Linked DNA regions of Homo sapiens. The protein of the gene in region 1 purifies or fractionates together with the protein of each later gene. This does not show direct contact. Each region holds a gene or a part of one and is shown on either strand. Other genes may lie near its edges.

Region 1 (5,455 bases):
TGGCGTGATCTCAGCTCACTGCAACCCCCATCTCCCAGGTTCAAGTGATTCTCATGCCTCAGCCTCCCCAGTAGCTGGGATTACAGGCGCATACCACCACGCCCAACTAATTTTTGTATTTTTAGTAGAGGGTTTTACCATGTTGGCCAGTGTGGTCTGGAACTCCTGACTTCAAGTGATGTGTCCACCTCAGCCTCCCAAAGTGCTGGGATTACATGTGTGAGCCACTGTGTCTCGCCTCTGTTGTGTTTTTAAAAAATGATTTTAAGGCTGGGCGCGGTGGCTCACGCCTGTAATCCCAGCACTTTGGGAGGCCGAGGTGGGCGGATCACGAGGTCAGGAGATCCAGACCACGGTGAAACCCCGTCTCTACTAAAAATACAAAAAATTAGCCGGGAGAGGTGGCGGGTGGTGCCTGTAGTCCCAGCTACTTGGGAGGCTGAGGCAGGAGAATGGCGTGAACCTGGGAGGCGGAGCTTGCAGCGAGCCGAGATTGCGCCACTGCACTCCAGCCTGGGTGACAGAGCAAGACTCGAAATAAAATTAAAAAAATGATTTTATTGGCTGGGCACAGTGGCTCATGCCTGTAATCCTAGCACTTTGGGAGGCTGAGGCAGGCAGATCACCTGAGGTCGGGAGTCTGAGACCAGCCTGACCAACATGGAGAAACCCCATCTTTACTAAAAATACAAAATTAGCCGGACGTGGTGGCCCACGCCTGTAATCCCAGCTACTTGGGAGGCTAAGGCAGGAGAATTGCTTGAACCTGGGAGACGGAGGTTGTGGTAAGCCAAGATCAAGCCATTGCACTCCAGCTTGGGCAACAAGAGAAACTCGATCTCAAAAAAAAAAAAAGATTTTATTTTATGATACTTCAGCTGTTTAAATTTATACTTGATGTTAATACCATTTTCAATTAATTTTTTTAATAGTTTAAGACCGTTGAAATAAAGTTTATTTCTGACAATATTACAGTGGATTCTTGTGACCTTAAGAGACTTGTTGGCCTGTAAGCTTATGTCCTTAGGATAAATGGATTTTTTTTCCTTCGTTCGTGGTGGGATCAAGTATATCTAGAAAACACTGAATATTGAAAACTAATGGACTAGATGACCAGTGTGAGTCATTCCTAAGATCTCGTAGACATTGGAATATTTTGCTTTGTAAAAGTAGTAGGAGAATTATGGAGCTACTGGAGGGACATTAAGGTTAAATTATTTTTCAGGATGGATTTATGCATATTGGAAGTTAAAGGAAAGGTACTTGTAAGAGGGAAAAATTGAAGATGTTGAGTATATGGAGAAAGAATTCAGAGAGCAAGATATAGAAGGAAGTGTGTTGACATTTAATGATAAGATGAAGGGAAAGGAGCAAGGGAAGATAATTTTGTGAACAAATCTTGAGGGAGAGATTGGGGTGCTCATTAAAGTAGGAGGCAGCATCATTGGTTGCAGTTAAAGGAAGGTAAAATCAAAGGCTTAAAGTGACTTGAAATAGCTCTTTTGGGGACTGCTATAAAAGAATTACTGTTTGCCAGTGATATCCCTAACTGAAGTTAGAAAAACATGTTGAACGTCTTGTAGGCCAAGAGCGTGATTCTGGCTTTCTTTTTTTTTTTGAGACGGAGTCTCGCTCTATCGCCCAGGCTAGAGTGCGGTGGCGCCATCTCAGCTCACTGCAAGCTCCGCCTCCCGGGTTAATGCCGATTTCCTGCCTCAGCATCCTGAGTAGCTGGGACTACAGGCGCCCGCCACTGTGCCCGGCTAATTTTTTTTGTATTTTTTTAGTAGAGACGGGGTTTCACCGTGTTAGCCAGGATGGTCTCGATCTCCTGACCTCATGATCCGACCGCCTCGACCTCCCAAAGTGCTGGGATTACAGGCGTGAGCCGCCATGCCCGGCGAATTCTGGCTTTCTATAACAGTACCTTTGGCCTGGGAGGAGGTTGGAAAAGCACATAATAGGGTAATTCAGACTGGGAATTAGTATGATGGAAGCTTTGGAGGTTACTAAATACAGAGTACTGGCTGGGCGTGGTGGCTCCCGCCTGTAATCCTAGCACTTTGGGAGGTTGAGGTGGGCGGATTACCTGAGGTCAGGGGTTCGAGACCAGCCTGGCCAACATGGTGAAACCCCGTCTCTACTAAAAATACAAAAATTAGCTGGGGGTGGTGGCCCATGCCTGTAATCCCAGTTGCTTGGGAGGCTGAGGCAGGAGAATGGCTTGAACCCAGGAGGTGGAGGTTGCAGTGAGCCGAGATCACACCACTGCACTCCAGCCTGGGTGATAGAGCAGGACTCTGTCTCAAAAAAAAAAAAAAAAAGAAAAGTGCTGGTGTAAGTAGCTGTAAATGCTAAAAGGCACATGTGTGTAATGTGGCCATAAGGCACATTATAAATGTGTATACTATAAATTTAGATGTAGACCTATAAAAACAAGATTTGGTAGACTCTGTCTACCAAAAAGAAAAAAAAATTAGTAATGGTTTTGAAGGTTTTAAAAGATGCTCATAATATGAAATTATTTTTGTTAGTTTTTCTTATACTCTGGACCTGATTCTAGCAGGAAAGTAAGTTAAAACTGGGCTGGGGCAAGTTAATTGGATTTAAAAGTAGCATACTTTTAGATGGATTTAAAAGTAGCATACCTTTAAGAAGTGTATGATGTGAAGTGTGCCTCCAAAACAGTTTAATATCTATAATTCATCTATAATTAATATCTGTTGCCCAGGCTGGAGTGCAATGGCGCAACTTTGGCTCACCACAACCTCCACCTCCCAGGTTCCAGCAATTCTTGTGCCTTAGCCTCCCCAGTGGCTGGGACTACAGGGGTGTGCCACCACGCCTGACTAATTTTTTATATTTTTAGTAGAGACAGGGTTTCACTATGTTGGCTAGGCTGGTCTCGAACCCTTGACCTCAGGCAATCTGCCCACCGTGGCCTTCCAAAGTGCTGCGATTACAGGAGTGAGCCACGACACCTGGCCTATAATTATAAATTATCATAATGGACATCCTGAAAAAATATACACTACTTGCATGTATAATGTGTCTTTGCTTTGATGTCAGCCTACAGAAAACTCAATACTTATATATATATATTACCCTCATTCCTTACCTACTTTATTGAATAGCTTTTTATTGAATAAAAATATATAGAAAAATAACTATTTTAGCCTTGTGAAAACGGTTTGTGTTTAAATAGGTTTTCTAGCCCGGTTCTATGGCTCATACCAGTAATCCCAGCACTTTGGGAGGCTGAGGCAGGAGGACTGCTTGAAGCCAGGAGTTCAAGACCAGCCTGGGCAAAATAGTGAGACCTGGTCTCTAAATACAAAACCAAAAAATTGCTGGGCGTGGTGGCTCACGCCTGTAATTCCAGCACTTTGGTAGGCCAAGGGGGGCAGATCACGAGGTTAAGAGATCAAGACCATCCTGGCCAACATGGTGAAACCCCATCTCTACTAAAAATACAAAAATTATCTGGGCATGGTGGCGTGTGCCTGTAGTCCCAGCTACTTGGGAGATTGAGGCAGGAAAATTGCTTGAACCCAGGAGGCGGAGGTTGTAGTGAGCCAGGATCACGCCACTGCACTCCAGGCTGGTGACAGAGTGAGACTCCATCTCAAAAAAAAAAAATTAATTAATTAATTAAGCAGACATGGTCACAAACACCTGTGGTCCCAGCTAGTCAGGAGGCTGAGGCAGGAGGATTGAAGCTGAAGGCATTCAACTCCCAGGAGTTGAAGGCTGCAGTGAGCTATGATTTCACCACTGCACTCCAGCCTGGGCAACAGAGTGAGACACCGTCTCATAAAAGTAAATAAATAATAAATAAATGGGGTTTATATTTATAAACCAAAACAACGTTTTTTATTCAATTGGATTTAGTACACCCTGATGTTTTTGCTTTTTGCTGATTATGCTTTCTTTTTTTAGAGAATATAACTTCTGAGTGAATATAACTTATTAGGAGGCCTCAAGATACGTATTGAATTAGGTAATAGCCAGAGCATAAATGTAATGACAGTTAGGTATTTGTTATTACAAGATTCTGCAGAGACCTTTTCATGTTTGACCTACCTGAGATGTTTAAAGTGTGTTTTTAATTCTCTGTGTTCCAAAAAAGCATACATATCAATACGTCTGTGGGTTAATGAACTAGAGTATTAAGAGACAGGCATTCTTGGTTTATTGTTCCATCAGAAGGTACCTTTGTACTATATTATTATCCTCTTCCTTCCTGCAGTAAATTTCATAAGTAAGAGTTGAGCAAATCTCCTTTTTGAGATTAAGATGAAATATAACAAAGTTAGAATAACAGGGACTGATTGGAGGCCGGGCGTGGTGGCTCACGCCTGTAATCCTAACACTTTGGGAGGCCAAAGTGGGCGGATCACCTGACGTCAGGAGTTCGAGACCAGCCTGGCCAACAATGTGAAACTCCGTTTCTACTAAAAATACAAAAATTAGTTGATCCTCGTGGCGTGTGCCTGTAATCCCAGCTACTCCAGAGGCTGAGATGGGAGAATGGCTTGAACCTGGGAGGCAGAGGTTGCAGTGAGCTGAGATCCTGTCACTGCACTCCAGACTGGGCGACAGAGGCTGGGCCACAGAGCAAGACTCTGTCTCAAAAAAAAAAAAAAAAAAAAAGAAAAAGAATAATAGGGACTAGTTGGGAAGTTAGATTGTTTAGATTACTGAAAGTAGGAAAAGATAATTTAGTTTTTTATAGAAAACTTGCTAAATTTAATGAATAGGTAAGAATAATTTATATTTAGTATTATCAAAGCACTAACCTAAGCAATTCTTATTTCAACAGAAATTACAGGTAAATTATAAACAGATATTAAAATGCTTTGCAGACTGGGCACACTCATTCACGCCTATAATCCCTGCACTTTGGTAGGCCGAGGTGGGCAGATCACCTGAGGTCAGGAGTTCAAGACCAGCCTGGCTAACATGGTGAAACCCCCATCTCTACTAAAAATATAAAAATTAGCTGGGTGTGGTAGCACACGTCTGTAATCCCGGCTACTTGGGAGGCTGAGGCAAGGGAATCACTTGGACCAGCCTGGCCAATATGGTGAAACCCCGTCTCTACTAAAAATACAAAAAAAATTAGCCAGTGTGGTGGCACATGCCTGTAATCCCAGCTACTTGGGAGGCTGAGGCAGGAGAATTGCTTGAACCTGGGAGGTGGAGGTTGCAGTGAGCCGAGATCGTGCCACTGCAGTCCAGCCTGGGCAACAGAGCGAGACTCCTTCTCAGACAACAACAACAAAATGCTTTGGAAATACACTTCACATTATTTGGTTCCTTTTAGAGATAGGGTCTCACTGTGTTGCCCAGGCCGGAATCAAAGTTCTGTGCTTAAGTGATCCTCCTGACTGAGTTTCTTGAGTAGTTGGGACTATAGGTGTACACCACCACCACTCTGGCTCAGGATTTTTTT
Region 2 (4,477 bases), on another chromosome or scaffold:
CAGTGCTAAGATTGGTGGGGGCTAGTGGGAACCAATGGGGCAGTAGGAAGAAGTCTCCCTGGGAAAGCAGGAATCTGGGTTCCAGTCCTTACTCTCCACTTGCTAGACCTCAGTTTTCCAACTGTACGGTGGGGAGATGGGTCTCAGCGCTCCCGGAGGCCCCATCCTACCCTAATACTTTGCAACAAGCACAGTCATGCTGAGCCACCCCTGAGCTGTTGAAATCCCCACTCCCCTTTGCTCCCAGGGCCGCGCATTGAAGACGGCAACCTCATTGGCTGAGGGGCTCTCGCTTGTGGTGTCTCCCGACAGCATCCACAGTGTGGCTCCGGAGAATGAAGGAAGGCTGGTGCACATCATTGGCGCCTTACGGACATCCAAGGTAGGTTTGGCAGGGGATGCTGACCTGCCAGTGGCTCGGGGCTCATCCTGGATGTTGTCTGGCTGAGGATTTGAAAGCATGGGCCTTGGAGATGGTCACACATGGGAGTGATTCCCGACTTTACCACTCAGCAGCTGTGTGGACTTGTCTATCCTGAGTCTCAGTGTCTTCGTGTATAAAATGGGGACGGTAATGGTTACAAGCTTGTGGCCAGCCTTGAGGATTTGGTGAGATTAGGTAACTAACGCCTTGGTACAGTGGCTGGCACTCAGGGAGGTGCTCTCATGACTCTGATGACCATGTGTGTCCAGTGCAAGGCCACAAAACTACCCTGGGCACCAGAGCTTTCCTGTTATTTGAACACCCTGTACGCTGTTGGCACCATGCCATTGGGCCATGCAGCCCAGGCCTGTACTGTGAGGGTCACAGTCACAGGCACTGTGTGTAAAGAACCTGGGACAGGGAGTGTCCTCGATTCTCCCCTGCAAAGCAGTGTAGGGCTCTCCACCCTTGTCCCCTTCTCTATTTCTTCCTCTTCCAGTCCAGCTTCCCCTGAGCCAGGCTTTCTGGGCTGACGTGAATGTTATCCTTTATTTTTTTGGTTTCTTTGATTCTGTTTGAAGCTTTTGTCTGATCCAAACTATGGGGTCCATCTTCCGGCTGTGAAACTGCGGAGGCACGTGGAGATGTACCAATGGGTAGAAACTGAGGAGTCCAGGTGAGCTGTTGGGGTGAAAACTCTGTTGGGGTAAAGGAGGAGTGAAGTGTAGGTGTCAGGATAACATGCAGATGTCTTTCATTTTGATACCTTTGAAACTCAAGTATAACATCTTCCTATCAGAAAAGTGTGAAATGATCCCCAAATTAATAGCCAGTGATTTGGAAGTGGCAAAAATCCAGTGAAGAGTGGCTCCAGGAGGAAAGGGGGATTGAGTTGCTCCCACATCTGGGAAGTTCCAGAGATGCACAAGCTTGAAGCATGACTTGGAGCAGGCCTGAAACACTGTCATTAGGATCAGCATGTCAACCCCGAGACCCCACTGCATCTCTCTGTGTTCAGCCTTCCCATCAGCTGTGTTGGTCCCATCTTTGCTCTACTTACAGCTTATCGTTTCTGACAGGAGTCCCAGGGCAGGTTCTCATTGATCAGGGCTGGGGTCACCTGGAGCTGGGGGTGGGTTCAGCCCCACCTGAATCATATGGACTGTGACCGACAGGTGGGGAGGTGGTGGGAGGAGCAGGAGAAGGGCAGCTTCAAGAGGCCCCCCGCAGGGCTGTCCTGGAGCAGAGGATGCAGCCAGATCTCTGAGCCCAAAGGGCAGGGCTGGGCCCCTTGGTGTAAGGCCAGTGCGGGCAGATTTCAGCTCAGGATGGGAGAGCGCTTTCCTCCAGGTAGCGCCTTGGAGGGCAGGAGCTGGCTGTCTGTCAGGAGTGAGTGCCCTGTCTTGGGGCTGGTGTAGAGAAGGCATCTGCCGTATCTGGGGAGTCTGATCTGGTAGCCCTGAGGTTGCTTCCTGCTCAGATGCTTAGAGATTAGACTGCCTGGGGCGACGAGGCTAACCCCCGTGGCTGCTTTGCTTTCCCTGCAGGGAGTACACCGAGGATGGGCAGGTGAAGAAGGAGACGAGGTATTCCTACAGTGAGTGCTGGGCCCCTTACGTGGTCTCTGCCCATGGTGGGGGCCCACAGTGGTGGCTGGACAGCAGGGCTGTTGGTGGGGCCATGGGAAGGATTCAGCACCAGGCATCAGGATCCCTGGGTGCAAGTCTTCAGAGCCCTGCTTTCCCACCCATCCATTGAGGCTCCCTGACCCACCCCTTTGGCTGTGAGATAGGAGGAGCTGGGCTGGTGGGTCTCAGCCGCGTGCCACTCCTACCCGGGCTCTGAGTTGATTCCTCTCCCTGAGCAGACACTGAATGGAGGTCAGAAATCATCAACAGCAAAAACTTCGACCGAGAGATTGGCCACAAAAACCCCAGGTGAGAGCCAGGCCCAAGGCCTGAGTGCAGCTTTGTCTACACTGGCAGGTCTCCAGCCTCAGTTTCTTCATCTGAATAACAGGATTGAGTTAATCCTGCCTCGTGGGTTGAAAATGTGGGACATGGGTTTGAGACCAAGCCCTGTGCTGGGCACCAGGAACACAGAGACTTGTCTCCCCTGACCCCAGACAAGCTCCCCGCAAACAAGTCACAAATATAAGGCCTGCACTAAGCGTCTAAGGGGATTTGCACACACGGGGCCGGGGAAGCATTTTGTTAATGGTTTGCCATGGGTGGGAGGACAATCAGGACAGGCTTTCCAGAGGCAGCGGCATTTGTTCAGGCTTCTCAGGATTTCAGCAGAGGGAGGTTAGCTCCACGGCATGCCAGTGGTGAGGCGGGCATAACACTTGGGTGTGGCTAGAGAGCAGGCCTTGTTCAGCAATGGTCTGGGCTGTGCCAGTAAGATGGTTGGGATGGAATGCTCTGGGAGGGGCTAGTGAGGGGTGTAAAGTCCATGCAAGATACATCTGACAGCAGTGGGTGGGGCAGGACAGGCTGGCAGGGGTCTAGGCAAGAGGGTAGGAAGCTCCGGGGAACAGGAGACAGAGTGAGGGTGCTCAGCCCAGGGGAGGGGGCACAGGGCCCCTGGGGGTGGACAGGACAAGATGTCTGCTGCGCCTGGGCTAATCTGGACTTGCAGGAACCCCCGGGTGGGGACCCTGCCCAGCACAAACAACCCAAAGGGACCCGGGCAGCTCCCACACCGGTGCCCATCTCTGACAGCTTCCTCTCTCCCACAGTGCCATGGCAGTGGAGTCATTCATGGCAACAGCCCCCTTTGTCCAAATTGGCAGGTTTTTCCTCTCGTCAGGTAAGTCTCAGGCCTCTCCAGAGGAGCTCGTGCCAGAAGCACAAGGCCCCCCTAGGGCCGGAGCTCCCAGTACTCAGCCTTCAGAGGGCTAAAGGCACAGGATCAGTCTGCACCTTTCCCAGCACCATGCTTTGGGGGCCAGGGGAAGGCGAATCCCCAGGAAGCAAGGGCTGACGTAGAAACCCCCACCCCACTCCATCCTACCAGGTTCCTCTGAAATCTGGGTTGTTCCAGAGAATGACTCAGGCATGCATCCTCACCCTGCTGCGTGCCGGTGTCTGCTGAGTAGACTCTGCTGAGACAGTCCTTCCTCAAGCAGACTCCGGCTAGTAGTAGACATGTGGTGGCTCAGTGCTCTCAGCCTAGGGCTCCCCCTCTCTGAGTTCCACCTGTCCCAGGAAGGCACTAGCTTATCACAGGCATCCCCCATTGACTCCAAAGAGAAGCTTGCAAGGGATAAGGTGGCACCATGGGCCAGAGTAACCCTGGGGCTCTGTTCCTGGGCCTGACCCATGAAGGTGGGAGAGGATACCAAGGGCCCAGATAGTCCTGGGGAGGCTGGATGATCCTGGGCCTGGCCTGGCCGCTTTCTGTGTGCTTTGTTGCTGGATGGTGCCTGTGTGCCAGCTGGGCCTGCCCTCAAGTAGCTCTCAACCCAGGAGGTGAGTCAGGCTTGGACGTGGATGGCCGTAACCTTGATGGAAGGGAAAAGGGCTAAGGCCACTCCCAGTGCTGTGGTCACTCTGACTTGGTGGGAGAGGGCACAGGGAAAGCTTCCTGGAGGAGATGGTCTAACCCAGGGGAAGCCGTGGACGAGACAGAGTCAGAAAGAGGCACTGCAGGTGGGAGTGCCACGTGTGCAGGCTCCAGGGGTGCAGTGGAAGGGGGTCAGGCCAGGGACTTTGCAGATTGAGGTTTTCACCTGGTCCCCTGGGTTTCTAACCACTCTGGTCCCCTCAGGCCTCATCGACAAAGTCGACAACTTCAAGTCCCTGAGCCTATCCAAGCTGGAGGACCCTCATGTGGACATCATTCGCCGTGGAGACTTTTTCTACCACAGCGAAAATCCCAAGTATCCAGAGGTGTGCGGAGAGGCCTGGGCTCTCCAAATAGGAGGGTCAGGGCGCTAGGATCAGGTTCCTGCGCCAGGCAGATTCAGTTCAGTCGCATGCACAGCTGCACTTGGCCAAGTGCAGCTGAGTGGGAGAGGCCCTCTGGGTGACGGCACAGCCTGGGCACGGG

Evidence for each region.
Region 2: the proteins of TMEM41B (region 1) and TMEM43 purify together in Homo sapiens (affinity purification with mass spectrometry; 2 studies listed by BioGRID). This does not show direct contact.

The regions. Positions count from the first base shown.
Region 1 is NC_000011.10:9,302,849-9,308,303, reverse strand, and holds part of TMEM41B (transmembrane protein 41B), read left to right. Parts: intron 1-5,455. UniProt on the Homo sapiens protein: Phospholipid scramblase involved in lipid homeostasis and membrane dynamics processes. Has phospholipid scramblase activity toward cholesterol and phosphatidylserine, as well as phosphatidylethanolamine and phosphatidylcholine.
Region 2 is NC_000003.12:14,130,575-14,135,051, forward strand, and holds part of TMEM43 (transmembrane protein 43), read left to right. Parts: intron 1-247; coding exon 248-382; intron 383-1,005; coding exon 1,006-1,100; intron 1,101-1,971; coding exon 1,972-2,021; intron 2,022-2,288; coding exon of another isoform or gene 2,289-2,291; coding exon 2,292-2,361; intron 2,362-3,164; coding exon 3,165-3,235; intron 3,236-4,195; coding exon 4,196-4,317; intron 4,318-4,477. UniProt on the Homo sapiens protein: May have an important role in maintaining nuclear envelope structure by organizing protein complexes at the inner nuclear membrane. Required for retaining emerin at the inner nuclear membrane.